Regions from separate parts of the Homo sapiens genome. Here all the other regions are reported to be linked to region 3. The links are microRNA targets in miRTarBase. Many come from high-throughput screens and were not tested one by one. Region 3 holds a microRNA gene; each other region holds the end of a gene's coding sequence.
What was found. Region 3 holds the annotated microRNA hsa-miR-519a-3p (AAAGUGCAUCCUUUUAGAGUGU, at 1,357-1,378, shown strand). A microRNA usually pairs through its seed, bases 2 to 8, with sites in the 3' UTR of a target mRNA and lowers its output. Matches are read on the target gene's strand: a 7mer-m8 pairs with bases 2 to 8, a 7mer-A1 pairs with bases 2 to 7 and ends in A, and an 8mer does both.

Region 1 (6,216 bases), not on the chromosome of region 3:
TTGGGCTAAATCATTTTCAAATTCCATAATATGGAAACTTAAAGAAAAAGTGGGCTTTGTAAAGGAAACAATATACATGCTATAATATGGATGAACCTCGAGGATATTATGCCAAGTGAAATAAAACAGTCGCAAAAAAAGACAAATACTGTATGATTTCACTTATATGTTGTATCTAGAGTAGTCAAATTCAGAAACAGAAAGTAGAATGATGATACTGAGAGACAGGGGAGGAAGAGGGAAATGAGTTGTTTAATGGGTACAGAGTTTCAATTTTGCAACACAAAAAAAGTTCTGGAAATTGCGTAATCATATGAGTATACCTAACACCACTTTGTTAAGAGGTAAATTTTGTTATGAGCATCTTCTCACAATTAAAATAACTAAATGTCATTTTTTAAAAGGACCCAATGATTTGTTAATGTGACAATGACACTGCAGGTATGTTTTAAAAACAAAGTATTTAGAGATACATGTAAGTTGTTATCTGCATGTTTATGGTATGTAAGGTTCACTGTACTATTTTACTTTTGTAGAATGTTTAAAATTTTCCTCAATTAAACAGAATAAAATAACTTTTAAAAAAGGAAACCAATAAGGAAATGAACTTTCCTAACCAAGAGAACCATCTAGCATGAAAACATATGATTATAGTTTAAACATGTAAAGTGTAACATTTTAGCCATAACTGATAAACATGTCACATCACTTATTTCACTTGAGAGAAAGCTGCTAAAAAACTAATTATTAACTGGGCTTGCATCGGAAAAACAATATGGAGAAAATTACATGGACAGTCTAAGTTTGCTATGAAAACAATGTACTTTTATTAATTAAAAGTCAAAAACAACAAAAGGGAAATTTCACAACCTTTGTTTGCAACTATATAATCTTTATGTAGAAAAACTATAAAGTGACAGTCTGATCTGGAAAGCAGCTCAACAATAAATCTAATCCTTACATTAAAAGTAAGTAAATTATAGAATCAGTTCACCCAAAAGAAATTGTCTTGCTGTAGAATATTTTAGCCCAACTGATTTCAACTATATTATTCTCATTTCTGACAAACTGTCTTTCCTGATATTTCAAATCACCAGAGATGTAACAGACAAGAACCCGTTGAAGTAAAAGAATAAAACACAAATACTCCAAGCACAATTACATGTGACATGATGAGTGCATTTAATCTACAATCTACAAAACTATACAAATTACCAATTATACATATAATCCATTTACATTGAAGCTCCATGAGGTGGTACTGAATAAACACTGAGGCATCAAATTTTCAACAATGGAACAAGGCTCACGGAACAGCAGCACATTCCCACCTTTTAGTCTAGCATCACAACACTTCCCCTGGGATTTGTACTTATTTATATATTATCTAAGTCCTAGGAAGTTGGTAACAAAAATTTTAAGTCAAAAGGATAATGAATTAAACACTCCCTAAAATCTATTCTAAAACATGCGTGTGAAATATGAAGAGATCAAGCACTTTGTAAATGTGAGATTTTACAGTCACGTGTTCCTTTAAACTTATACTAGTATCTTCACTAGTATCTGCACAATTTTCTGTAATTAGGCTTTTCACTAAAACTTAATAGAAGAGGAAAACAACAAAGAAAAAAACCTTATTTGTAAACTGTACAGTCTTAGAAAAGTGGTACTATTTATTTTTAAAACCAACTTTCTCTGCTAAAGAAATCACACTGTGTGGTCATCAGAACAGTTTAAGTCACTTTGGCAATACAGAGATTTATTTACCCTTATTTTGAATAACAATAATGATGATGATAAACTATTGTCACGGTCATATAATTTTTCAGAACTTACGCCACCATGGAGGCAAATGTGTACAGAATATTTCTAATAAACCTAAATTTAATCACAGTTAAAATTTCTCAAAAGTATTTTCAAGTGCTCAAGAATATTAAAGTTTGGGGGGAAATACCTAAGTCATAAATAAGCAAGTATTCCCTCCAAGATTCACTAATTGGGATAAAAGTCTCAGGGTAAGCCCACAAGAATGGTCTGCAATAAAGAAAAATCAGGTCTGTGTAGAGTAATTTCTGCCATCTTTAGCAGAAAAGCCAAAAACATTCTGAGCCAAATAAAAGCAAAGATCTTTTGATTCAGCGCCTTTTGTTGTGTTAGTTTTAATTTCTAACTTCTCAACATGTTATAGCTCAGAAATTCCCATATGCTTACTATCTGTAATAAGGAACTATAACGTTAAAGAAAAAATTCAGAGACGTGATCATTTTCCATCATAGGTCTGTCTCTCTTTGGTAAGAAACAGATCAAGACTTACTTATTTTCTCTCACCTACAGAAGAGAGGGGAGTTAAATGTCATTAACCTAGTAAACAATCCCTGTGTATAAACATTAAGTTGGAGGGTAAAGAGCCTAAGTCATGCCCTTTATAAGAACTGTGGAAAACAACTCTGGCACGTAGCTGTGGTAGAGGACAGTAAGTGTCCACAGATAGAACATGATCTTTCCTGCAACTGGAAGACCATGCTTATGAACATTCTAGTCAACCTATAGAAATTTTGCTCTGTAACTTGAGTGTCCTTCAGACAAGAAACATGAATAATAAGCTATTATAAAAATATGGTAGAATATCTTCCCCCTTATAAGTCACCAATTTCTGATCCCATTAAACTTTCATAGAATCCATGGGAGTATTAAGTAGGTTTACTCTAGGTAATTTGTCATGAAGTAAAACTGGAAATAACCTATCTAATAATACCATTTGCAATTCAAGAAAAAAAAATCCAATACAATCTAATATGTACATTAACAAACTTCACAGAATATATATTCTATCAGGCCTAAGAAATCCTCACCCACCCAACCAAAAGAAAGTCAGTTTCACCCACTGTAAGATAAACCATGACACTTGTATCTGGATCCAGAAAAAAAGAACTGCTAAACTCCAATGTAGTAGGAAAAATATTACAAATAAGCACCCAAAACTGACCTAAAATTTTCTACTCAATCCCGCAGGATGTCTTTTTTTGAAGAGAAATAAGCATCCCTTGCAACTTGACTGGAAAGATTATTACCTGACCAATTATTTCTAAGCCTATACTAGAAACCAGTGCAAGATGGAATGCCAAAATCACCACCAACTCGACACGACCGTTATTTTTGCAAAGAAAGGTAGTTATATAAAATTCCATTCTCCCAGGCAATGAGCAGGGGAGAAAAACATGTTACTTTTTAAATGGCTACATTTGTAGGTTTTTGAGTATCAGCACCAAATGTTCACTTTTAATTATTCTGAACAAATTTTTAGGAATTAATGTTTCCTAACAAAATGGACTAACAAAACAGTGAATAAGGAAATAACTTTCAAGCAATATTTGCATGCTGATAAGAACCATTAAGTAAAACAGTGATTGGCTCATTTCCAAAGCTACTGTAGGTGTGCACCGTTTGGAAATAGTGTATCTCACTGCTCAGCTAATATAGGAACTCTCCAAACCATGGGTGCACATCTTATTTTGTGACTAGGCAAGATTAAGTAAAACAAGTTGAAAAGATTTTTTTAAAAAGCAAGCTAAATCAAAATAATCCATTGTTAGAATAGTTTTCTACTTTCTCTTTTAGGGAGGAAAAAAAAAACCCATCAAACCAGTGTATGAAGTGCCTACATAAAAAACTGAAATCAAGATTCACAAATAATAGTGTCAGTTCAATTCTACATAACCCTTTATTATATTTATAGCAGTATTATGACCAACATTACACAAGTTTTATTTCTTCCTCATACCGTAGCAAATTTATTTTCATAATAGAGTTCAACTCTGCAAATGGTTTAAATCAACTTTTTGCACCTTGAATTTACAAACCATTAGATACGAAGTTTCCTGAAAAACATTTTATTTTTAAATTTTACTTAAAGCTATAACTAAACCCAAGTCTCTTGGGAGTGGGGGGGGACCAACTAAGCTGTTTAAACACAAACTTATAAAAAATATTCTGATGCCAGTGTTTGAAAGATAGCCTACAGAAGATTATAAAAGGTCAACGATCATACAAGAGAATTCTATGGCCAAACCTTGTTAGAAAATTTGTTTTACAAATAAACTTCTTTCATAATAGAAGAGGAAATGAAAAGATATTTAATTTCCCCCTAAAAGTAAGTAGTTGCTCAGAACATGGGTTGGATGTATGGAAATCATATTGCTTCTGTGAAAAAAATGTTTTAGCCAGGCATTCCACTAACAAAACGCCATGCCATATCTACCTAGTCTTTGATATCTGGGTATTAGTATTACCCAAGAGAAACTTATCAAAAGCAAATGGTTAGCAAACCACCAAATAGGAGTCTCAGGTCCCTTAATTTGGATAGTCATCTTAGTAAATATAAAACTTAAGCTACTTGAACACTGGGGCTTATAAAGTGCATCAGGTATAAGAAGCACAACAGTAGTGTGAAACTCAGTAGGACTTTAAGGGACTTAATATCACCGGTGGGGCAAAAAAACAACATTATAGTTTTCTGTTCAGATTTTATTTGAAATCTAATTCAAATTGTCAAAGCTACAAAAGGGGGGAAGACATCTGTATTATTTTTGCTAAGTCACAACATCCTAAAACAAAATACTACTACTGTCAGCAGATCCATTATACACATTTCTGATGAAATCCATTAGAACAATAAAAATTTCATCTTGAGAAATAGCCACAATGAAAGTAATTTACACAATATAAAACAATGACAGATCTACAGATGCAGTTGCTCATGAGTTTACACATGCATACACAAACAAACAAAAAACCCCAGGAATGCTCTTTCATTTGATTTTTTGTTTTTTTAAAAAACAGACCGTTCAGGCACAAAACAAATCGCATTTCCAATAAGTGACAGCATCTTAAAAATTTACGTCAGTGTTTGTTTTTCTTTGACTTTTTATGAGACCTGTGTGGAGATCTGGACTGGGATCTGGACTTCTTTCCTGATTTTTTAGGAGATCTAGACCGTGATCGCCTAGACCTTTTAGGTGTCCTTGAACCAGATGGTGATCTAAGGAAACAAACAAAAAAATCCCAATTGATAAAGTACTCATGTGATCAAAACTGTTTATCCTTAAACGATCGAAAATGATCTTTAACAGGGCACAGTGAAAAATCACTGCAATAAGACTATGAACTTCTAAAATTTAAACTCTATTGTACACACACACACACAGATTATTTTGTACTTACTATGCACTGCATCAATGATCATCAGTAGAGCGCTTGTTTATAAAGACAGATTTCTGTGCCTTATCACTGCTCTACTGAATCAAAATCTCTGGAGGATGGAACTAAGAATTTGCATTTTTAACAAGCTCCATAAGTGACTGATAACCCCCAAATTTGAACCTTTAATCTACAAGATAAAGTTCAAAGTTGCACCTAAGATCATGCACAAAATTTAAAAAACACAGCAGCTTTGAAGTTTATCATCCTGAAGCAAACAACTACTGCAGTATCATTCAAGGGCATCATTTAAGACATAATTTTGTAAGTGCTGTTCATGAAGGATTACTTAAACCAATAAAGATACATGTACATATACATACATATATAACACATACATACATATATATACAGGTGCCATTTAGAAAAGGAGAAAGGTATCTATTCTGTAAAGATTTTACTAAAAATAGTTACAATAATAAAGTATTAGCATACAAAGCAGTTTTAGCTCTCAGGAAAATTCCTCTATGTATCACCAGATAAATAAAACATTTCTGAACCATTTTTCTGGAACTAAAGGAAAAAAAAGTATACAAAATACTAAAATACATACTGAAAAAATGGTATTCATGATATGTATTTCCAAAAATATCTACCCAAGAACTTGCTAATAATATTGCTATGGGGGAAAAATGTGTGTTTCTTTCAGCTTTGACAAAAATCAAATAATATTCTATAGAAACTAAAGAACAGAACGAAAAGTAAAGCAGCTAACCCTATTCCACAGAAAACATTGGATATGATGTTTAAAATTCTTGGCTGGTCCTCACTTGTTGGAAGCCTTCACTTCAGTCATGAAAGAGATTGGGATGAGGAGGTGGGGAGGAATAACCAAAAATGAAAGTGTATCTCTTTGGTTTTCTAAAATCCTTAAAAAAAAAAAAAAATGTATGCCAACCAAATTATTTTCAAAAGCTGATGAAATGACAAGGAAACTGGTATCTGAAATATTAGCAAAAA
Region 2 (6,107 bases), not on the chromosome of region 3:
TATGCCCTTTGATGTATATATGCATTCATTTCTGTTAGAGTAGAATTGTTGGGTCCTCGGGTATGTCTGTGTTCATTAGCATATTTATTTTATACTTCTATATAATCATTTTTTTGTGTTTTGCTTCTTGTGCAGTTTGCCTGAGAATACAGATCAACCCACAGAACAAAGCGGATTTCCAAGGCATCTCCCCAGAGCGAGCCTTTGCTGATTTTCTCTTTGCCAGCACCATCCTGCACCTTGTTGTCATGAACTTTGTTGGCTGAATCATTCTCATTTACTTAATTGAGGAGTAGGAGACTAAAAGAATGTAAGTGATGATCATAGTCCTTGTCCTATAATGTTGATTTTAGGAAGAGAAATTGGATGGGACTGGTTTTGATCATGGTTGGCCAGGCTCCCATACTGCTATTGACATTTGCAGAATTTTCCATTGGTCTGCAAAGTATGCATTAATATCATCATAATTCATCAGTGCTACTGCTCTTGGTCATTGCCTTGTCTTTCTGTTCTTCAAATCATTAAGGTAATAGAAAATTAATGTTTGTAGCTAGTACAATAATTTCTGTACCAATAACTCCACGAAAATAACTCGGAGATTTTGGAAGAGACATAAATGGTAGGTTTTGCCTTTAGATTTGTTAGTTAATTTTTTTCTGATTTTGATCTCAGATGACTTTTAATGCTGGACCATTGTTTTCATAGCACTTAAATTTGATAGCATCCAGTGTATGTTGGATGAATGACTGTGGGCATTTGCTAATATGTGCCTTAAAGTAGAAATAAATGGGGAAATTGGGTTAACTTGGGAGAAGACTTTAAAATATAAGATGGGATGCTGCTTGGTTCATTTGCCATTTTCACTTTTTTAGCAGTAGAGTTCTTTCTCCCTTCTCCCAAACAAACTCTTACAAAAAGAATCTTGGTATATAAAGCAGAAGTAGAATTGGAGTTTTTTTTGATGGACAGAAATTGAAAAGCCCTCTCTGCTTGGCCTTCATCACATATGGTACGCCCTCCCCTAAATCGCTCCCTCCCAAGCAGAGTTCTAAAGCTTTAATAAATATATGGCTGTTTTCCATACCGTATGTCAACACTGTTACTTTATATATGAGACAACAGAGGCCTAGAACAATCCATTGGCCTTCCCTGGCCACATAGTTAAGTGTTTGCAGTGAAGTGCCCTAGTCTAGCGGTGTTCTTGGCCCCGTACTCCTTCCGGTATCCCATGTAGCTTACTGATGAATGCATGCAATCTTTGCCTTTGCATTGCAAAATGTAATGTTCTGGGTGGTAGAGAAAAGAGAACCTTAGGAGATCTCATCCTATTTGGGGGAAGGATATCCTAGGACCAACCTCTTCCTGTCACCACTTGGAAAGCTGTCATTTTTATACTAACCAGCAGAAATCTAGTATAAGAGTTAGAGCATCTATGTGCAAAGTGGATGCAATAATGTGGAAGTGACTATACTTCCTTTTCTGACATGAATTAGTCATTTACTTATAATATGTTACCTAAATCCTTTCCTTTGATACTGCCTCAAAAACAGTTCTGTTAGTTCAGGTAAGGTATCATTTTGGTAGTGGTAAGTTGACAGTGAGGTTTATTTCAGTGAAAAACTTTTTTTTTTTCTTTTCTGTTTTTTTTTTTTTTTTTTTGAGATGGAGTCTCGCTCTGTTACCCAGGCTGGAGTGCAGTGGTGCGATCTCGGCTCACTGCAGACTCCGCCTCCCGAGTTCATGCCATTCTCCTGCCTCAGCCTCCCGAGTAGCTGGGACTACAGGCGCCCGCCACCACGCCCGGCTAATTTTTTGTATTTTTAGTAGAGACGGAGTTTCACCGTGTTAGGATGATCTCGATCTCCTGACCTGGTGATCCGCCCGCCTTGGCCTCCCAACAGTGAAAAACTTTTAAGAACCACTTTGTTCTGTTATTTTAATACAATTTAACTCATTAGACACCTGATTAAGACTTGAGTTATCCTCTTCCTCCCTTCCTCCCTCCCCTTCTATGTGCCAGCCAATGTCTTGTTGTTGGGAATATAAACAATATTGTTGGCTGGGCGTGGTGGTTCATGCCTATAATCCCAGCACTTTCGGAAGGCGAGGTGGGCGATTGCTTGAGCTCAAGAATTTGAGACCAGCATGGGCAACATAGCAAGACCCTATCTCAATTAAAAAAAAAAACCCAAAAGTGTGGCTTCTGCCTTCAAGACATGTACAGTCTAGTAGGGGAGAATACGTAAACATAACAGTTAAAATACAGCCCATTTAGGGCCTCGCTATAGGTTTGAACAAAGTGCTGCAAAAATCCAGAGAAGAGAGCAGCTGTACCATCTGGGAGCAGGGACAGCAGATGAGTTATCTGAGCAATGGATAACAGCTATTGCTAGTTAAAATGAACTGTTACCAGTGGATAACCTTGAATGCAGGTAGAAAACTGACCCACCAACATTGACCTTCTCACGCTTGCAAATATGAGTAACCCTTGGGCTTCCTGATAGAGCCTTCTGGAAAGGTCATGTCTTCTGATTGCTTACTCTAGATTTCTGAAGTTCTTTTTTTCTAGATGAGTCATGGTGTGTACTTAGGAAGGGGACACAGCAAACATTTCAAGGATGTTTTCTAGGCTCAGGGAGATACCAAATCATGGAAAATTATTTCTTAGGGCTGTCATGATTGGAGGAAGACTCTACTGCAGAGAGCTTAGTATTTCAAAATTATGACAAAAGCAAAGACAAAAAAGCAGTCTCAGCAGAAACTGTGTACTGCAGACCATATTAACAACCTAGGACCACCTGCTCAGCTGGGAATTATGGGCCCAAAGCATAGCAAAATCCTCAATCCCAGATTGCAGTGTTAAATCTTTCTATGGAGAGTATGTTCATAGAAAAATCTTTCTCTCTGGGGGATTGCCCAGATTGTTTTTCATAGAGATCCTTCATTTGAATTATACTATACTGTCCTGCTCTCAGTTTTTAAAAATATACATTTATTTGCTCCTTTTATGTGCTTCTAACTCAGCTATATGTGCACTGTGCCACAGCACTTTAAAAATAGTTCCAAGTAAATTCTCAATATTTATACCAGCTCAGAAGGTAGAACAAAACAGATTGAATGTCTTTATATTTTCCAACTAAGTTGAGAGTTTGATATTAAAAAAAAAATTCTGTAATATAGCTGATCTTACATGAATTTGGGGGTGACAAACTCTAACCTACTCTGAAAGAGGCAGGTCAAAAGAAAATGGCATTGGGTTAAAAAAATAAACAATTCAAGGGGAAGTAAGGAAGTTAACAGATAATGAGTGCTCAGTGTGTGCTATGCTTTAAGTACTTCTTGTTCTATATCATTTTATTTTCAGAATAATTTCACGAGGATAGGCTTGCTGTTCTCATTTACAGATGAGGAACTGAAGTTGAGAGAGCCTGGCTAGGATGGCTGAGCACGGTGGCTGATGCCTGTAATCCCAGCATTTTGGGAGGCCGAGGTGGGTGGATCACCTGAGGTCAGGAGTTTGAGACCAGCCTGGCCAACATGGTGAAACCTCGTCTCTACTAAAAAGACAAAAATTAGCTGGGCGTGGTGGCCGGTGCCTGTAATCCCAGCTACTCGGGAGGCTAAGGCAGGAGAATCGTTTGAACCCATGAGGCGGAGGTTGCAGTGAGCCCGAATTGCACCATTGCACTCCAGCCTGGCAAGAGTAAGACTCTGTTTTCTAAAAAAAAAAAAAAAAAAAAAAAGAGCCCCTTGCTAGAAATCTTACAACTAATGTATCTATCCAGGTGATCAAGAAAGACTCAATATTTTTTATTTTTTAGACTATACAAATGAAAATACAAAAGCAAAAATTCTCCCAGTGAGCTTCTGACCCCCAGAAATCCATGCACACCTGAAATGATCAGTTTTTGTTGTGTAGGTGGCGGCATATTTTTGAATGAATCCATGACAGAAAGAAGCTCAGTGGATTTCAGTATTTAAAAATGTATATACTTTAGTTTTTTCCATGTTTGTTCTTCTGTGTTTCTTTGTGAAATTCTTTTTTTTTTTTTTTTGAGACAGAGTCTTACTGTCTTGCCCAGGCTAGAGTGCAGTGGTGCAGTCTTGGCTCACTGCAACCCTGCCTCCCGGGTTCAAGCAATTCTCCTGCCGCAGCCTCCCCGAGTAGCTGGGACTACAGGCACTTGCCCGGCTAGTTTTTGTATTTTTAGTAGAGATGGGGTTTCACTCTGTTGGCTAGGCTGGTGTTGAACTCCTGTCCTCGTGATCCACTCGCCTTGGCCTCCCAAAGTGCTGGGATTACAGGCGTGAGCCACTGCACCTGGCCTGTGAAACTCTTTTTTAAAAAAAAAAAAAAAAATCTCAGTCCATCTCAGGTGTTCTGAAGGGTAATGAGGAAAAGAAGGACAGAACTGTATTGGATCACAGTTTGAGAATTAAAGTTCCTGATGAATTGGGCCCTGGGTCAGAAGGAAGGGTGAACTGGGCCCAAAGGGACAAAACCTTGCTTGAAAATGTGCTCAGCTCCCAGGGAGATAGTTGCCAAATGCCTGTGCCTTGTTAGCATTGTTTTGTTTTTATAATGGAGACCATTCTCTCACAAGTCTTAAAAAATTCAGTGTTTGATCCTAGCTGGAACAAGGGGGCTACAGGGTTGGGCAGAACATTTTAAACTCTGACTGGCAGCACTGTTTACAAACATGAAATTATGTTGGCTTTTCGAATTCAGTTAAAGTATAGTAATCTAGAAAATTACCTCGGGAAGGGGAACTTGATGTTATTCTGTGGGCTTTGCTGCCACCTAGTGGATGGTATGTTTCATGTGTTGAGCGGCTACTACAAAACATGAGGAGTTGAGTTTGGGGGAAGAAGCTACTGATACCTGTGTTAAAAAACCTAGTTTCTTTCCAGTCATTGGGGGGCAGCAGAGGTCCAGGAGGGTTTAGATGCTGGGTTGGGGGTTGCTTTACATTCTGGCCAGAAGTGGGCAATGTCGAGTTAGGAACAAAAGGGCATAGAACCCTAAAGTGGCCCTAGATTTTGTTGTGTGGGGGAAGACCAAGACTGTGCACATAGACCCGCAGGTTTCCCGTTTGATTTCTTTTTTTCACCTCCTTAGTTTGAGAGCTTCTTTTTTTGGTTTGTTCTACGTCTTTTATTCTCAATGGTGACCTCCCACGCAATAATCTTTAATTTTTTGTTGGTGGAGGGGCCCATTTAGTTTTTATTTCATTTTCTCTTTGATATTTCCACCTTATATTGAATTAGGTCCTGCCGCCAAATAAGCTCTCTCAGAGGGAACTGTCCTACATTTGTAGGAAATCTGAGGTAGTCACATCATAACTTTTTTCAACTCATTTTTCTCTGTTTAGAAGGTGAGATTAATTATATATTTTTTTATGTGCTGGGGTCTCGCTACGTTGCCCAAGCTGGGAACTCCCTGGGGTCAAGTGATCCTCCTGCCTGAGGCTTCTGTGTAGCTGGACCTACAGGTGTGTCACAGTGCCTGGCTCTGAGATTAGTTCTTTACCTTTCATTCTTAAAACTTTGAATCTACTTATTTTATTTGCTAAAAAGTGCTAATTGATGACTTTACTTGTTTATTGAACTCTATTTTATATTTGGTGTATTTAAGGCTACCAAAGAAAAAAGAATATCGAAATAGATTTATATTTATGAATTTCATTGCTGCCCTAACTTACTGCCTTATTTTCTCCATCCTCCCAGCTTGGATGACTCCTATTCCAAGTCATTCCCACCCCTCAGGTTGCATAGGAGCCCTTAGTCTACTGCATTCCTCCAGTGCTGCACTTATCACATTGTTATGAAACTATTCATTCACTTTCTTCTCTCTCCCACTGGACTCAATTGTGAACAGTAACAGTGTGTGTTTGTTGAATGAGTGTATGAATGAATAAACCTTTTTTTTTTTTTTTGAGACGGAGTCTCGCTTTGTTGTCCAGGCTGTAGTGCAGTGGCATGATCTTGGCTCACTATAACCTCCGCCTCCTGGGTTTAAGCAGTTCTCCTGCCTCAGCCTCTTGAGTAGCTGGGACTACAAGTGTGTGCTCCCACGCCTGGCTAATTTTTGTATTTTTAGGAGAGAC
Region 3 (6,148 bases):
GGGCCAATAAATGCATCTTTATGTTTTCGTCCATTTTAACTTGATCTAGGAAAATTCCAAAAAAAAAAACCCACGGTGCTGGAGCAAGAAGATCTCAGGTTGTGACCTTCTCGAGGAAAGAAGCACTTTCTGTTGTCTGAAAGAAAAGAAAGTGCTTCCTTTCAGAGGGTTACGGTTTGAGAAAAGCAACGTCGAAGTTGACGCTGATCTTGGTAATACATTTGCAGAGCGTGCTGATCATCAGACATGGATAATGGTGGGGTTTTGTTTTTGTTTTATTTTTTTATCTAAGACAAGGTATCTGTTGCCCAGGCTGGAGTGCGGTGGCACTTCTAACCTAGATCTCTTGGGTTCAAGTGGCCCTCTTTTCGGGATAGAGTCTTCTTTGCTCTGTGGCCCTGGCTGGAGTGCAGTGGCAGGAACTCGGCTCACCGCAACCTCTGCCTCCTGGGTTCAAGCAATTCTCCTGCCTCAGCCTGTCGAGCAGCTGGGGTTACAGACATGTGCCACCACGCCTGGCTAATTTTTGCATTTTTATTGTCGATCGATTGATTGATTTTTGAGACAGAGTCTGGCTCTGTCACCCAGGCTGTCGGGCAGTGGTGCGATCTTGGCTCACTGCAACCTCCACCTCCCACCTCAGCCTCCTGAATACCTGTCTACAGGCATGCACAACCACACCTTGCTAACTTTTGTATTTTTTGTACAGATGAGGTTTCACCATGTTGCCCAGGCTGGTCTCGGACCCCTGAGCTCAAGTACTCCTCAAACCTGGGCCTCCTAAACTGCTGTGATTAATGGTGTGAGCCACCGTGCCCTACTCTTACTTGTGTGTTTCTGCTCAAATTTTATTAAGGAGCTTTTATGGCCTCGCCTGTGGTCTGTCCTGGAGGATGTTTGTGTGTGTGACAATGTATATTCTTCAACATCTTCGATTCCATTTTGGGTGCCTCCATGGGGACTGTGTGTCCCTGTACTGGAACGCAAGTGAAGACTTGGCTCAGAGTCCATTTGCTGTTCTCTAGAAATCCAGCCTAATCCTCTTGTGCAAATATAATATATATCTAGTAGGCATTGCTTTTTCTTTCTGGAGACAAAACACAGGAGGATTGCCCCTTGATGAACAGGACTAACCTGCTGATTCTTTGAAGCAAGGAACTGGAAATGGTCCTTTTAGGGATTTATGCTCTGGATTCCAGAAAACACGCAAACAGGGCCAATAAATGCATCTTTATTTTTGTGTCCATTTTGACCTGGTCAAGGAAGATTCCAACAAAAAATCCACAGTGCCGGAGCAAGAAGATCTCAGGCTGTGTCCCTCTACAGGGAAGCGCTTTCTGTTGTCTGAAAGAAAGGAAAGTGCATCCTTTTAGAGTGTTACTGTTTGAGAAAAGCAACGTTGAAGTTGATGCTGATTTTGGTAATACATTTGCAGAGCATGCTTATCATCAGACTTGGATGATGTTGGGTTCTGTTTTTGCTTTGTTTTTTTTTCCAAGACAGTGTGTTTGTTGCCCAGGCTGGAGTGCGGTGGTACTTCCCACCTAGATCTCTTGGGCTCAAGAGGTCTTTTTTTATTTTTCTTTCTCAAGAGAGAGTCTGGTGGTGACACCCAGGCTGGAGTGCAGTGGTGCATTATCAGCTCACTGCAGCCTTCCCCTCCCCGGTTCAAGTGATTCTTTCACCTCAGCCTCCCGAGTAGCTGGGATTACAGGTGTGGGCTACCACACCCGGCTAATTTTTGTATTTTTAGCAGAGACAGGGTTTTACCATGTTGGGGAGGCTGGTCTCAACTCCTGTCCTCAAGCGATCCACCTCCCTTGCCTCCCAAGTACTGAGATTACAGGCGTGAGCAACTGCGCCCGGCCTCAAGTGGTCCTCTTAAGTCAGCCTACCAAGTTTTGGGACTACATGGGGCATGCCACCACACTTGGCTAAGTTTTTAATTTTTTTTTTTTTTTTTTTTTTTTTTTTTGAGACGGAGTCTCACTCTGTCGCCCAGGCTGGAGTGCAGTGGCAAGATCTCGGCTCACTGCAAGCTCGGCCTCCGGGGTTCACGCCATTCTCCTGCCTCAGCCTCCCGAGTAGCTGGGACTACAGGTGCCCGCCACCACGCCTGGCTAGTTTTTTGTATTTTTAGTAGAGACGGGGTTTCACCCTGTTAGCTAGGATGGTCTCAATCTCCTGACCTCGTGATCCACCCGCCTCGGCCTCCCAAAGTGCTGGGATTACAGGCGTGAGCCACCGCGCCCGGCCGATAGTTTTTAATTTTTGATAGAAAGGGAATCTCTCTTGCCTAAGATGGTCTCAACTCCTGAGCTCAAGGGATCCTAAAGGTGTGAGCCGCCTTGTCCTGATGACCCATTTCAAACGTAGCTGACATGGCCAGGCATCATGGGGCACACAGTCCCAGCTACTGCAGAAGCCGGGGTGGGAGGGTCCTTTGATTTCCAGGCTATACCATGTGCTGATCACACTTTTGATCCCGAGTAGCTGGGATTACAGGCAGCCACCGCCAGGCCGGCTAATTTTTATTTATTTACTTATTTTTTCAGACGGTGTTTCCCTCTTGTTGCCCAGGCTGGAGTGCAATGGCATGATCTCGGATCACTGCAACCTCCACCTCCCTGGTTCAAGCGATTCTCCTGCCTCAGCCTCCCGAGCAGCTGGGATTACAGGCATGCATCACCACGCCCGGCTAATTCTTTGTATTTTTAGTAGAGATGGGATTTCTCCATGTTGGTCAGGCTGATCTTGAACTCCCAACCTTAGGTGATCCACCCACCTCGGCCTCCCAAAGTGCTGGGATTACAGGCATGAGCCATTGTGCCCGGCCCATTTCATTTATTTTTATGTGTGCTGCTGAAGCAAGCACTTATGTGTAGGAATTGTTCTTCCTGTGAGCATATGTTGGCCAGCCTGGACCACATACCAAGATCCCATCTCTTTAAAAACACAGATTACGTGGCACCTGGCACCTGGTCCCAGAGACTTCATTTGGGTTGGTCATTTGAAACACTAGCCTCCCATCAATTTAGTGTAATCAATCCAAATCATGTGTCCTTCATTAAGAGACTAAGAACGCCTCCACGTCTATCCAGTCTATTTTGTAATCCCCAACGGTTGTCAATATTAATAAAATTTCTTTTCTTTTTCCTATTCATTTGTGTCTTTAGTTTTTCTTCCCCAAAAACTTGCCATCATTTCTCGGAATAGACCTGCTTTCTCTGCAGGAAGGGTGTGGTTGATTCAACCCTTACCCACTAATGCCAACCCCAGTGAGTTCTTTTATCCTATTTTCTATGGGTAACGATTCCAAGGTACCATTCCACCGGGCAAAAGCTCACATCTAAGTGTCAGTTGCTCGGTAAGATGTGAAATGTTTGCTGTGGCTAATATAAGAAACAAACTATTGTAGACAAGATGAATCTCAGTGGCAGTGATAAATGTCGCACAAGACAAAACCACAGATCCTTTTTTTTTTTTTTTTTTTTTTTAGACAAAGTTTCACTCTTGTTGCCCAGGCTGGAGTGCAATGGTGCGATCTCGGCTCACTGCAACCTCCGCCTCCTGGAGGCGATTCAAGCGATTCTCCTGCCTCAGCCTCCCAAGTAGCTGGGATTACAGGCATGCACCACCACGCCCAGGTAATTTTGTATTTTTAGTAGAGACGGGGTTTCGCCATGCTGGTCAGGCTGGAACTCCTGACCTCAGATGATCCTCCCACCTCAGCCTCCCAAAGTGCTGGGATTACAGGCGTGAGCCACTGTGCCCGGCCAACCACAGATACTTTCACGAAAGCCTTTAGGGCCCTAGAAGGGGCTCCCTAGTAACAGGTGGGATGCGAGGCAGCTCTCGTTGTTGCCGTAGTGAGCGATGCCTGTTCGTCCAGCCCTCAACACCTTTTACTCCGTGGAAGTTATGCCTGCACTGGTTTACAGAACCTCCCTTGACTTGGGTTGAGGTAGAGCTGAAGGGAACCTCAGTGTCCCTTGCAGGTGGGATGTGCACTGCTTAGCAAGAGCACGGAGGTGGAGTGCATGGGCTTTGAGTTTTTATTGGGAAAATGAAGCTGAAATGTAGGGCGCATGACCACATCATAAATGCACATTTGATTTAATTTTTCTATTTTATTTTTATTTATTTATTTTGAGATGGAGCCTCGCTCTGTTGCCCAGGCTGGAGTGCACTGGCCTGATCTCGGCTCACTGCAACCTCCACCTCCCGGGTTCAAGCAATTATTGTGCCTCAGCCTCCCAGGTAGCTGGGATTACACGCATGCTTCCACGCCCGGCCGATTTTTGTATTTTTAGTAGAGACGGGGTTTCACCATGTTGGCCAGGCTGGTTTCAAAATCCTGACCTCAAGTGATCCGCCCGCCTCGGCCTCTCAAAGTCCTGAGATTACAGGCGTGAGCCACCATGACCAGCCTAATTTTTCTATTTTAGAGACAGTGGTCTAGCTATGCCACCCGGGCTAAACTAGGCTTTAGAGATCTTCCTGCCTCTGCCCCTCCACGGTCTCTGGTAGTTTGGACTACAAATGAACATTAGCATATTTGCAACCACCACCACTCTAGTTTGGAAGATTTTTATCACCCCAAAGAAGCTTATACCCATTTGCCTTCAGTACCCACCCCCCTCTTCCACTCAGACCCTGGCAACTACTCTACATCTCTCTAGCTCTGGATTTGCCTCTTGTGGGCATTTCACAAAAACCAGTCTTGAATGGGTGGCCTGTTGTGACCACTTTTAATATAATGGGTTGGTTCTGGTTGTCTGAAGTGTGAATCTTGCCAATGAAGGATGGTCCCTGGATGGAAGCAGGAGGCTGGGAGAACTGGGCGGAACATCCTTTCGGAATGGAGTGGGGTGGGCACACCCTGATGTCTGGGAAGCTCACAAGGGTGGAAGAACCCATCTTCCTCTCTGATAACTGCAAGGTGACCCTCCTGGGGCACTGGATGGAGTGAAGGCATCTGGACTGGGAACACCAGGGCATTGCACTGGTGCAGGCAGGATGAGCCGAGGGGAAAGGAGTGCCAGGCATCATTCTCTGGTGACAGTTTGGGTTTGATCTGGATGGAGCAGGTGTCTTCTGGTAGAGAGAGTCCCTGGGATTTTTGCTCTGCTCCTGGCTGTCTTTCAGTCATGGAATCTGATGACAAAGGCTCCCACTCTGGGCCACTTCATTTGGTTTCTGGAGCCCAGTGGTCCTTTCTGCCCGGACTCAGGATCTTTTGGGGAAATTTGGGACCTCGCAGGACATCTGCACAATCCATAGAAATCCCTGAGAGCCCCTTCCCTTTGCTGACATCTCCGTATTCCTACCTATTGCCTTCCAAAAAAAGACCCTTATCTGAATTGCCAAAGGGGGCTTCCCAGAGCAGGGAAACCCGGTTAAATTTGTATTTCAGATTAACAGCATATCTAGAATCTACTCGAACAAGAAGTGATTTGTTGTTTAAGTGTGAGAAATTTTTTTCCCCTAATTTTAAATACGGAACCCATCATGAATTTGGCTGTCACCTTTGCGCAGGGGCCGTGGGAACCTATCATTTCATTGTTTAATGTGTGCTGCCAAAGCAAGCACTTAAGTGTGGGAATTATTCTTCACGTGAGGATACAATAGATGGAACGTTATTACTTTTTTCTTTCATAATTGAGATTTTATTGGTTGAAGATCGGTACAGACATTTCAATTTGTACACAATTCTTAACATACGTACCGAAAATCTAAAAAGCCATGTATTGTAAATCGTTTTGTTTTGTTTTGTTTTTTTGAGACAGAGTTTCGCTCTTGTCACCCAGGCTGGAGCGCAATGACGCAATCTCGGCTCACCGCAACCTCCGCCTCCCGGGTTCAAGCAATTCTCCTGCCTCAGCCTCCCAAGTAGCTGGGATTACAGGCAAATGCCACCATGCCCGGCTAATTTTTGTATTTTTTTTTTTTTAAGTAGAGACAGGGCTTCTGCCTGTCGGTCAGGCTGGTCTCGAATTCCCGACCTCAGGTGATCTGCCCGCCTCGGCCTCTTAAAGTGCTGAGATTACAGGCGTGAGCCACCGCACCCGGCCATGTATTGTAATTCTTCTACAAAGTTATTCCGGCGACTTTCCAGCTTAAAATTTGGAAGCACATTTTCCTTAAG
Region 4 (6,216 bases), not on the chromosome of region 3:
GCTTGGTAAGTTGCAACCTTGCAGTGTCTAAAACTCTGATTTCTGTTTCCCCAGTTTTAACCTTGCCTGGTGGCTCAAGGCTCTGAAACAATTTTAAAGTGGTTAAGATACCATCACAGCCTGGGCGCGGTGGCTCACGCCTGTAATCCCCAGCAAAGATTAGCTGGGCGTGGTGACGCGTGCCTGTAATCCCAGCTACTGAGGAGGCTGAGGCAGAAGAATTGCTTGAACCCAGGAGACAGAGGTTGCAGTGAGCCAAGACTGCGCCACTGCACTCCAGCCTGGGCAGCAGAGTGAAACTCTGTCTCAGGAAAAAAAAAAAAACGATACCATCACACACAAAAGATACCATCACAAATATGTAAGGATAACATTTTGAGGTTTTGGGGGTTTTTTGATAAGCAGAAAAAGCGTTCAGAGGCCAGAATTTGAGTTGGTTGATTTGCTCCAAATAATGTTAGATTCCCCCCAGGTGTTTTAATGTACAAAATACTCCAAAATATCCAATACGTATATTTCACATTTAGAAAAACCAAACGGTTTAAGCTCCAATATGAAGAAAAAGTCTCCATTACAAAGTTGCAAAACTGCCTACATATTCCTTTAGGGGACTAGCAACTATCTCTCCATTTGTGCCATCAAAGATAATTACACTAAAGCTGGGACTCCACCTTTCCCCATTGACTTCATTTCTTTACACAGTGTTGCTCCTTAAACTTGTGGCAGATAAGTTAGGCAATAATCTCACCATGTCCTCTGAGCTAAGCGGACAGGCGAGGGCAGCTCAGGACAGGAGAAACTGAGAAAAGCCCAGGAAGGAACACTGGCCTCTGCACTAGGCCTACTAACCTCAGCAAGCTTAATCCCCAGTTTACAGATGGAACTGAGGCTCCACCTTGTTCAAGGCCACCCAGCTAGTAGGTGGTAGAGTCTTTTCAGTCAAAAAAGAACTTAGATCCTTGGAGTGGTTGATACACCACCCAAATAAGACAAGATGTAAGTTTGAGGGTTTTTCCGATAGGTGAGGATATACAGTCATCCCTTGATATTCAGGGGGAAATGGTCCCAGGACCTCCTGAAGATACCTGAATCCGAGGATGCTCAAGCCCCTGATATAAAATGATGTAGTGTTTGCATATAACCTACACACATCCTCCTCTATACTTTAATTCATCTGTTGATTACTTACAATACCTAATACAATATAAATGCGATGTGAAGTTGCTATACTGTATTGTGTAGGGGATAATAACAAGAAAAAAAGTCTGTATATGGTCAGTAGTGTATTTTCGACCTATGGTTGGTTGAATCCTAGAACCCGCTGATGGAGAGGGAGGGCTGCCTGAACATCATGGTGTCTCCTGTTTTCATATTCGGTAGCTCTAGCTTGGGGCAGTCCCATCCTCTTCGAATGTATCTGGAAATGCATGGGAGCATCTTTTGTAGTCAGTGGAGGGGGTGAATTGCACTGCTGACATTTAGGGCTCAGAGGTCTGGGATACTAACACCTGCTGCAATGCTTATGTTGCCAGTTCCACAGGATGAAAGATCATCTAACCAAAAATGCAAATAGCTATCTTGTTGACAATAGGCTCCTCATCCGTTCAGGATGTGCGAGAGTTACTTTAACATGGGCATGAGCTCAGAGATGGAAGTGACTTGTCAAAAGTGCAGTATACAAGCTGGGCACGGTGGCCCGTGCCTGTATCTCAGTTACTCAGGAGGCTGAAGCAGGATGATCATTTGAACCTAGGAGTTCATCTCATCTTTTTTTGAGATGGAGTTTCACTCTTGTCACCCAGGCTGGAGTGCAACGGCACGATCCCGGCTAAGTGCAACCTCCCCCTCCCGGGTTCAAGCGATTCTCCTGTCTCAGCCTCCCGAGTAGCTAGGATTACAGGTGCCTGCCACTACGCCCAACTAATTTCTGGTATATTTAGTAGAGATGGGGTTTCACCATGTTGGCCAGGCTGGTCTCAAACTCCTGACCAAAGTGTTGGGATTACAGGCGTGAGCCACTGCGCCCGGCTGAGATCCCATCTCTTAAAAAAAAAAAAAAAAAAAAGGGTGGGGGGCATTATACAAAGTGGAGAGTCCTTAAAAAGCTCAGACTTCGTACAGGAAACAGGCCATGCTGGCTGTACCGGTCCTTTTGTCTGGCCAGTGTGGGGAACCTGTGAAACCTTCATAAGGTCATCAATGGTCAGATGACAGTTCAAATTCAAGCTCCATCACTTGCTAGCTGGCTAAACTTGAGCAAGTGTTTTTGGAGCCTGTTTTGTCCATAAAAAGGGAATAATAAACTCAAAAGATTGTGGGGATTAAACAAGGTATCTGAATGTGCCTGGTATACCATCTAGGTAGGGACTAAGTGTTCTGTGAAACGGTGGCTGTTTATCTTGCCATTTTCACAAATGCCACACCTGGCTTTGTGCTTCTTAACCACTTTCTTACAATGATGTTTTAATTCCTGTGAAGAAATAGCCCACAAGGTATTTGTTCTGTCAAAGGCTTGGATGAAATGTTTTCACCCAACTGCTACCTCTTGGACCAACCAAAAAACAAAGAAAAACAAGTCGAAGGGAACTAATAGCAAAATTTAAACCTGAGAAACTAAAAATCTTTGTTAGCACATTATATCCAATTGCATGCTAATTCACCAGTGTTCTTCATTATTTTACACATACTACAAAGAAGAAAAAAAGTTCTTTTCATCATAATCTATGAAATAGAATTCATTAATACCTGAACAATAGTGAAGTGAGCAACAGAGGGTAGTCCTGAGAATTCAGAAGCTGAACAACTACATAGGAAATGCAACTATTTGGTTATAATTGAAATCAGATTAAAAACAGTATGTTTAGGTCAGGCACAGTGACTCATGCCTGTAATCCCAGCATTTTGGGAGGCCAAGGCAGGATTGCATGAGCCCAGAAATTTGAGACCGGCCTGGGCAACAAAGTGAAATCGTGTCTCTACCAAAAAATCAAAAAAATTAGCTAGGCATGGTGGCATCCTCCTGTGATCCCAGTTACACAGGATGAGGGGATGAGGCAGGAGAATCATTTGAGCACAGGAAGTCAAGGCTGTGGTGAGCTGTGTTCGCACTACTGCACTCCAATCTCGGCGACAAAGCGAGACCCTGTCTCAAAATGAAACAAAACAAACCAGTTGTTTGGCTATATATCACACATTCAGGGTCCACAGAATAGAGCTGACCAAAGCCATTGTCAACCTCTCTGCAACAGCAAATTAAGTTTTTTTGAGATGGAGTCTTGCTCTGTTGCCCAGGCTGTAGTACAACGGTGTGATCTTGGCTCACTGCAACCTCCGCCTCCCAGGTTCAAGCGATTACATACGTGAGCCACCGTGCCCGGCCAAGAAGCCTTTCTTTAATAACTCTCCTCTGTAGACAACCTTTTCTTCTTCCAAATTCCTATATATTTTTTTGAATTTACTGTGTAATTTGAGAGTTCAGAGGCTGTATAGTTGAGGTGAAAAGAGGTGCATGACAGACAAGTTAAGAATTGTAATTGAGTCCAGGCCTGGCTTACTGGCAGTCTGGCCCAAAATGCAAACAGCCTTCTATTTTAAAAAAAATTGTTAACAAGGTGCTAAGGAGACATAAATCAGAGTAATCCATATTTGAGATCATCCATTATATCCCAAACCAAAAAAAAGAGACCTCTATGGACCAATGGCTAGGATTCAGAAAATGCTTAACTATAGAAAATAATTCTTTATAGGGTAGTTTTGTAACAGGATTTTACCGTAGCAAATGTGGAATAAAGAAAAGGTTTAGGTTTAGGAACACCCATTAGGGTTTTTTCGTTACTTCAACATAAAGTACCCTTTAATACACGAAGTACATCCTTTAAACAGCCAAGAGAAAGGAGGTTGTACAATAGAGACGTCATGTTTGCTTTCTAAACATTTGTTTGACTCCTGACACAATGGTTTTGCTTTGGGGTAACATGAAGGTTGCCAAACTTCAAAGTAAAAAAAAAGATATTTTCTGACAAAGCAAATGTTCAGTTCAGAGTTGCCTGATGCTGTCAGCATTCCAAGCAAACTCAATAGGAAGAGGTGAAGTCTTCTTCACTGTATAACCATCGGCGTGGCTGCGGTCTACTGCTTCACATCCCATTCTCCAGGGAAAGGAAAAGTGCTCGCTATGATGCATTGTTTAACCAATGAGTGGTGAGATGTGCCTCTTTACCTGAGGGCTTCCAGACTATAGTTCAGCCACCTTGCTCTCTGGGTCATATGTAGTCCTGAAGCATGTACCATGTTATGGAAAGCCAAGTTTCAAGAATTAAAAATGCAGAGTCAGTCACAATCCTGGGTGCTGTGAGGAAGGCTATAAGGCATTCGAACAAATTTTTTTTTTTTTTGAGACAGGGTCTTGCTCTGTCACACAGGCTAGAGTGCAATGGCGCAATCTCGGCTCACTGCAACCTCTGCCTCCCAGGCTTAAGCAATCCCTCCCACCTCAGCCTCCCAAGTAGCCGGAATCACAGGCAGAAGCCACCGCGACCAGCTAATTTTAGTATTTTTTTGCAGAGACGGCATTTGCCATGTTGCCCAGGCTCGTCTTGAACTCCTGAGCTCAAGCGATCTACCCACCTCGGCCTCCCAAAGTGCTAGGATTACAGGCGTGAGCCACCACGCCCGGCCAAACAAAAGATTAATAAAAACAATGTCTACACAGTTCGTGGCAGGGCGTAAAAAGGTAATAAATTTTCAACCGTGAGAGGGGTTCCCCATCACCTAGGGATTGGGCTGCCTTCCTGGAGTGGGGGCTGACATGGAAATCCAATTCTACTGAGGGTCTATGCATGGTAATTGGCAGAAAACATGATAGAACTAAACACTTCAATTCTTCTCGTTTGAGGAAAACAGCTCCTTAGAGAGAGCTTGAGGTTCAAGTCCTTTTCCCATTGTCATCTATTCAGCCATCCACAGCTTGAAGGTCCTGTCATATGAGCAAGTGGCTATGAGCTGCCCATCGGAAGAAATATCTAGGCCCATCACTTTGCCTTCGTGGCCAGCCAGAGTCTTCAGCGGGGACCAGCCTGGGTGCGTCCAGATCTTGGCTGTGTTATCATAGGCACCAGTAAGCAAGAAGTTCCCATGGATAGCTACAGGAGAAGAGAAGGGGAATTGCTTGAGGAATTCAAGTATTCAAAAGAGAAGACAAAAGCACAAAAGTCTGCAAAAACATACTATTTTTAAAAAAACTTGTTTCTACAGACTTAAGGGAACAAATAACAGTAAGGTCTTTTGGCTCATTCCCTGACCGAGAATCTATTCAGAATAATATTAAGGACTCAGTGCTCAGAGCATCCATGGAGGAAAGAATGAAGCAAAGCACTCATGAAAGTCTGCTTTACTTCCTGCAACGAGAAGCGTGCTTTCCCACAGATCTAAGGGTATGGCAGAGGGAAGGAAATTATAATTTGCTCCTTTACCAGTAGGTCAATTTCTCTCCTGTTTTACTGCTCAGTTAAGCTAAAGCCTGGCCTGCATTCCACGGGAACACAATACTGTTTGTCTGTGTCATTTAGACGTAAAATAGGAGGAAAGCTTACGCTCAAACTTGACACCAGTCACTAAGTTCTGATGAGCAGGGATGGTGTAGACGCAACGCCGCTGTCGGAGGTCCCACACTTTGCAGGTGTTGTCACCACTGCCGGTTGCAATGTGATAGCTGTGGATTGGATGCAGTATTGAAGTTAGAAATAGAGTACTTACTGACCCAGAACCCTTTTTCGCCCCTCATTCAGTGTGTTTATTTTACCCATTGGGGGAGAAATTTATTCCATAGATTTCTTTCAGGTGGCCTTCTAAGAACATGATACAACGTCCTGTGCGTAGGTCCCAAACTCGACCAAATGCATCCAGTCCCCTGAGAAAATAATTTAGAAATGAACACTTTGAATCCAGTTCTCTGTGGAAGCAGGTATAGGTAAGAGGTGAGAGTACTGAACTGCCCCTGACTACATGGGAGAAGCCTTACCCAGTGCCAGCCAAAGAGCCATCTTGATGGAAGGCAATGTCATACACACCCATGCTATGGCCTTCCTGATGCAGGATCTCCTCTTGAGCCTCCAAATCCCATAAGCGCCATGAACGGTCATAGCTAAAACCAAATCACACTAACAATCAACCAGCTGATATTTATTCAGTTTCTACAACACATAAAGTATTCTAAGC
Region 5 (6,216 bases), not on the chromosome of region 3:
TTAGTCCTTGTATTAGGCTCTGTGGGCCAAAAGGTATTGATTTTTGTGTAGAGCATCAACCCCAAATTAGCTAGAGGTAAATTTAAATGTCAATGGACAGTTTTTAAAAACGAAACATGATGCATTAACCTGTCCTTATTTGATTAGCCTCATCTTTTAAACTCTATTTATGATTGTATGAATCAAGTAAGAACCAAATATGAATTACTATCACTAGTATAATCACATCATAAAAAGCTGTTTCTGTTCTAACCTTGGTTACAGATAAATGACAGCCCTTAGATTCACTAGATCTGTTTTCAGAAGGGAAGACTCAAGGTAATTGGATTCAGAAGCATTAGTAGAGGCATAGTTGGGTGCCCTTAATGTCATTTGAATAATGGGACTATTGCAAATCTCTCCCCCTTTCAGATTCCCCTCGGCGACTCTGGTGGTATCACTGGATTTGCTGGCTTCTCAGCGTAGTTGGAATCTTCTGTATTCTCTTAGCGCATGACCACTACACTGTGGACGTGGTGGTGGCATATTACATCACCACGAGACTCTTCTGGTGGTATCACACTATGGCCAATCAGCAAGTGAGTTTCCCCGCTTTTGATTTTAGCTTCTGTTGTTTCTGGCTTGATGTTGCTGGCTTGGACAGGGTGCAAAGAACCTGTGGATGTCTGAAGTTTCTCTTTCTTAAGTAGTAATCAACTAAGATTGTATTGTTTTTTTGTGACATTGATTCTCTTCAGAATTAAGAATAAAAAGTTTATTAATATAATGATGTGAGGAATTACTTCCTTCTAGAATAAGGAACGCACTTTCATTGTCCTTGAAAAATGAAAAATATTTTCTAAGCTTGTGTCCCTCCTTGCTTGATTTGCTTTCCTATCCTCTTCTCCCTACCCGGGGCACATCACAAGCTTAATATTTAACATTTAATTAAGTGTTAACATTTTTAGCATAGAAGAGGAATACCTAAAAAGCTAACTGAGGTGTTTATTTATAAGCAAGAGATGAGTGAGCCATAAGTTCTCCTTGCCCTCCCAGAATTGGCGTTGTTTTTCTACTGGGATGTGGCTCAGTTTGTAGATGAATGTGGAGTGTAGAATGGTGATGAGAGAGAGAAGCTGGGATATGTGGGTGGACACGCAGGGCAGGTATGGAGTCCTTTGGGAATTTTAGCGTGGCAAGTATTTGAACTTAAAGTGAAAGATTGTAAGAAATGTGTTTATGTTTCTTTGTTATCCTAGGTGCTAAAGGAAGCTTCCCAGATGAACCTCCTGGCCAGGGTGTGGTGGTACAGGCCATTTCAGTACTTTGAAAAGAATGTCCAAGGAATTGTACCTCGATCTTACCATTGGCCTTTCCCCTGGCCAGTAGTCCACCTCAGTAGGCAAGTTAAATACAGCCGGCTGGTGAATGACACATAACAGCTGTACAAAGTGGGGAAAAGACAAATTGTCCGAAGTGCTAAGAACTCCATGAGAGAAGATGCCATAAAATAAACACCTCCCTAATCCTATTATCTTTCAATGGTTACCTTGACTTAACCTATTGAGTTACCTGGTCAGCACTGTGATCTTTTTTTCTCTCCAAAGGACCTGCGTTGGACAACAATAAAGAAAAATTTAACCTATCATGCACTGTACACATTTCCTGTTCATAAGTTTGGGATTTACATAACCCGCAACCACCATGTTCCTTTGTATATGATGCAGCAGCATAAATGTAAGCTTTTATATCATAAGTTCTGGTCTTTCCAGTCACATCTGGAAATAAAGCGTATTATTTTCTTGGGAAAACATACTTTTCATATCTCTTGCCCCAAAGATTGGGCTGTAAGCCATTTTCTAGCAAATGTCTCTATGAAGGTTTCTAAGTACCTGAATGGGGTTTGATTCTGAAATCTTTCTACCTGTTGCACCGATATTCAAATAAAAATGATAGACACAGAAAGGTTTGGTAACTTTGGGTTTTGTAAAATCAGCAAAGGCAGTGTTTCAAAAAGTGCAAAAAAAAAGATTCTGTTATAAAGTGATTTTCTAAGTATTTCCTAACTTTATTTTTCAAAATGATGTTATGAACACCAAATTTAAAGATTTTTAACATGTCAGAGAGAAGAGAGTTAAAATTTAAAAATGCATCTTGGGAGAGAAATTTGTCTATGTTTCTAGTGCCTTTCTTGTCTTGATTGTATGGTCAGTAGGCAATCTTAAATGTTTTTATTTAAAATAAAGTATTCCTTGAAAATATAAATATATGTATACACTACTAAATTTTGCATTTATAGCTAAATTGAATCAGAAGACTGCTTATGGTTTTAAAATTGCAATGACTTAAATAATGAGGTTGTTAATTAGAGTCAGAGCCTGTTCACATATTGTGATCAGGTAGCAATGACATGTACCACTTAAATTATTTTATCGTCGATTTGGTAGTTCAATTTTAACTACTCAATGAAAACAGCCATGAATATCTTTTCTTAAAGAGAGTTTTGAAAATGATCACTTACCTAAAACTTGAAAGCTATGAATTAGTTATCCATACTCTCATGACAATTTTGTTGGTGAACAACAAAAAAGAGATCTATTTCTTTAAAAGATATTTGTGCAGAAACTGCATGTAACTCTAAGTTTTACTCCTAACATACATATGTTTGGGGAAGTATTCTATTCTATACTTGCCAATGTGGAGAACAAAATAGTTTTTTAAGAATGAAGAAGTATATATATCCATTCTGTATTTTACGTGCAGCAGAATTATCTTCCGTAGGATTTTTTTGTGTATTCACAAGGTGATATTTGTATTGTAAAACAATAATGGTGAAGGAAATAAAAAGGCTTTTAAAATTTTGTTTGTTTTAAATCTTTGTAAAGTTATTATTCCAGAGAGTATACTGGTATCTTACAGCTTACCTAGATCATAAATTAATCAAAATGCACTTTTTAATAAAAACTGATACTTAAAATAAATGGCTGTTATTTCTACTGTGTTCACATTCTTCACAGAAGTCATAAATGGAGCCATTAAAGCAAGATAGAAAATCAGTTTCAGAATTTCTTCATGGAGTGTTTCTGCTTGACATGGGACTTTTAATAATTATCTGGATTTTTTTCCTTGGGATTCCTTAAAATATATTCTAATCTTTAGTAAATTCTAGAGAGTTTTTTAATATATAAAAAGAGTCACATGTAAGTTAAATTCAAACTTTAGAACAATGTTTACTAACATTTTGAATTCTCTAATTCTCAACCAAATTGTTTTTTTTCCTATATCTGGCAGTAATATAGCTTCTCCAGTGTAGATGGAAAGGAAAAGTAAATCCAAAGTGAGAAATAGAGTAATAGTACTATGATAAACCAGTGGTAATGGAAAATAACTATTTAAAAAGAATAAAAGGTTATTATTATTTCTGATGTGGTGACTAAAGGAAAATGTCAACAGTGGAGATGTGTCTTTGATAAAGGATGTGTTAAGGAGGCTAGAAATGTAAAACCAGAGGCCAGGTGTGGTGGCTCACGCCTGTAATTCCGGCACTTTGGGAAGCCGAGGTGGGCTGATCACTTGAACCCAGGAGATTAAGACCAGCCTGATCAATATGAAACCCAGTTTCTACAAAAAATACAAAAATTAACCTGGCACGGTGATACATGCCTGTGGTCCCAGCCTCTCAGGAGACAGGTGGGAGGAGCGCTTGAGGCCGGGAGACAGAGGCTGCAGTGAGCCATGACCGTGCCACTGCACTCCAGCCCCAGCAAAAGAGTGAAACTCTATCTCCGAAAAAAAAAAAAAAGGAAATTAGAACCAGTAAAACTTTTCCTGTGTGGGGCTTTAAACTTGTGTATCAGACAGGGGAAATGTGGTGGCCTCTTTAGGCAAATAGAGCCAAACCCTTGGATAGGTCTTTATTTAACTGTTATAGCCTTTCACTAACTTTGACTATCAGCTGCTGCCATATTGAAGGGAAAGTAAATTGAGTAAGTGGAAATGATATATTGGCACTTGCTAAAAATAGGATTTTTTCCCTAAAAAACTAGAAATCATTATATAAAAATTTGTTATGAGTTTACATGCCACATATGTATCAAGAAATCCACTGCTGATTGTTCTTCATGGCTGACTACACTGATTCATGAATTGACATATCTTCTGGGTCTCTAGTGTGCAAATCCCAGGAAGGACAAGGAGAAAGCTCATTGTATTCTAGAGTATCATTGTACACTTGGTAAGGATTGCCTGTATAAGGACATGTGCTTTCTCAATGTCTTTTTTTTTTTTTTTTTGGCTCACTTAAGTTAGACATTTTACATGTATTAGTTAACCCTCACACATCCACAAAGTGTAATTATTATTGCCATTTTACAGATAGACCAACCAAAGTGACTCAGATATATTAAATAACTTGCCCAAGGGCATGCAACTGGTAACTGGTAAAAGTCCTATTGGAAGCCAAGTTTCCCCCCTCCCCCATCAATACTGTGAGCTTTCATAAACTCTTCAGTAAGAGTCTGCAGTGAGAGAAACCTATGCCTATGGTGGTAAAGCATACTCTCACCATGGACTGAGGAGCAAGAAATTTACACCATAAGGTGTGAGAGGAAAATTTGACTGATTTCCTAATTGCTATATGTTTTATTTGTATCCCAAGCACATGCCAAATTTTGATCAATGTGATAAATATCTCATAATACCTCATACAATGGAAATGCATGCCAACCTTAATTTGACCACCAATATACAAAAAGTCAACCAGATTTCTGAATTTACTAGAAAACAATATGTTGCTTGGATCACTAGATATTGACATCCTTTATTTTTTTTTCTCCCTGTAGTCAAGAAACAATTTGAACAAATCAAAGCTGTTGACTTGGTATTCTGCTTATCAGCACCTTAAAATACTTATCCATCTCCTAGTTTACAGTACAAGTCAGAAGGAAATTAAATGACCTTTCACATTTAAAGTGATAGTTGATATAACTGAATGAATATCTATCATGTTTGTAACTCTTTTCTGTTTGTTGCATTTGTCCTCTCTTCATCCCTTCCTTTTTCTGTCTTCCTTTAGTTTTGAACAATTTATGATTCTATTTTATCTCTTATCATACCAGTTATTCTTTTTACGAATTTTTAAATGGTTGCCCTAGAGTTTACAATATAAACTTTTTTCCAAATACAAGCCTGCCTTCAAGTGTAGTGTAGGCATTTTATAACAACACATTCCCAATTTCTCATTTCTGCCCTTAGAACATTGATGTCATTCATTTGACTTATCCATATGGTATAATCACTCAACACATTATTACATTTATTACTTTGAACAAGCAATTACCTTACAGATCAATTAAGAACAAGTAAAGATTTTGTTCATCTTCACTTATTTATTCTCTGATGCTCTTCTTATGTAGTTCAAGCTTCTAACCAACATCATTTTCATTTTGCCTGAAGAACTTCCCATTTCTTGCAGGGCAGGTTGGCTGGCTTTTTTCTTTCAACATTTTAAATATTTCACTCCACTTTCTTCTGGCTTACCTAGTTTCTCACAAGAAGTCTGCCATAATTTTATTCTTTTCTTCTATAGGTAATATGTTTTTTCTCTGACTTCTTTCAAAAATTTCTCGTTGTCTTTGCCTTTCTACAGATTGAATATGAAATGCATAGGTGTAGATTTTTTTTGGTGAGGGTGGTATTTATTTTTGGTGTTCTCTGAGCTTCCTGGGTCTGTGGTTTGGTGTCTGTCATTAATTTCGAAAAGTTGTCAGCCATTATTACTTCTTTCTTCTCTGCTTTCCCTTTCTTTTGTTTCTGATACTCCCGTTATGATAAGTTACACATTTTGAAATTGTCCCACAGTTCTTGGATGTTTGCCTCCCACTTTTTTCAGTTTGATAGGTTTCTATTGACATATCTTAAAGCTCACTGATACTACTCTCCTTGGCCATGTTTGTTCTAATGATGACCCCATCGAAGGCATTCTTCATTTCTGTTACGATGTTGACTATTTCTAGCAGTTTCTTTTGGTTCTTAGCTCCAAATTCTTCTGCTGTATTTGTGGCCCTCCCTTTTGACTTGGGCTTCCCTAAGTAGTCCTCCTCAGAGAGGGTCTGTGTCATGTATCTCTTTTAACTGTAATCCACTGTTTTTCTTGCTGGAGCTCTATTGGTGTGGTGGTTAGATGTTGGATAGGGGGAGAGTTTAACCATATGATTGAATCTCAGTTTTTCAAGACTT

Region 1: miRTarBase lists U2SURP as a target of hsa-miR-519a-3p. Seed matches in the 3' UTR shown: 7mer-m8 at 4,413-4,419.
Region 2: miRTarBase lists DAD1 as a target of hsa-miR-519a-3p. The part of its 3' UTR that is shown has no 7-base or 8-base seed match.
Region 4: miRTarBase lists PRPF4 as a target of hsa-miR-519a-3p. The part of its 3' UTR that is shown has no 7-base or 8-base seed match.
Region 5: the mRNA of SGMS1 is a reported target of hsa-miR-519a-3p. Seed matches in the 3' UTR shown: 7mer-m8 at 2,926-2,932.

The regions. Positions count from the first base shown.
Region 1 is chr3:143,055,134-143,061,349 of GRCh38, reverse strand. It overlaps U2SURP (U2 snRNP associated SURP domain containing), which reads right to left. Exons shown (of 28, transcript NM_001080415.2): 28 at 625-5,038. The coding sequence ends at 4,900. Among named protein-coding and RNA genes, the nearest start is that of U2SURP, 57 kb to the right of the region's middle. RefSeq lists an enhancer at 131-200.
Region 2 is chr14:22,569,262-22,575,368 of GRCh38, reverse strand. It overlaps DAD1 (defender against cell death 1), which reads left to right. Exons shown (of 3, transcript NM_001344.4): 2 at 136-310. The coding sequence ends at 266. Among named protein-coding and RNA genes, the nearest start is that of LINC02332, 15 kb to the right of the region's middle. RefSeq lists an enhancer at 4,353-5,075.
Region 3 is chr19:53,761,041-53,767,188 of GRCh38, forward strand. It overlaps MIR519A2 (microRNA 519a-2), which reads left to right and starts at 1,304; the gene lies at 1,304-1,390. It overlaps MIR516A2 (microRNA 516a-2), which reads left to right and starts at 93; the gene lies at 93-182. It overlaps LOC124904766 (a long non-coding RNA gene), which reads left to right. Exons shown (of 2, transcript XR_007067335.1): 2 at 2,556-3,159. It also overlaps the pseudogene RNU6-165P.
Region 4 is chr9:113,290,392-113,296,607 of GRCh38, reverse strand. It overlaps PRPF4 (pre-mRNA splicing tri-snRNP complex factor PRPF4), which reads right to left. Exons shown (of 14, transcript NM_001244926.2): 11 at 6,020-6,142; 12 at 5,801-5,908; 13 at 5,592-5,710; 14 at 3,703-5,141. The coding sequence ends at 4,948. Among named protein-coding and RNA genes, the nearest start is that of RNF183, 9.9 kb to the left of the region's middle.
Region 5 is chr10:50,302,344-50,308,559 of GRCh38, reverse strand. SGMS1 (sphingomyelin synthase 1) reads left to right here. Exons shown (of 11, transcript NM_147156.4): 10 at 412-578; 11 at 1,239-2,960. The coding sequence ends at 1,418. Among named protein-coding and RNA genes, the nearest start is that of ASAH2, 54 kb to the right of the region's middle.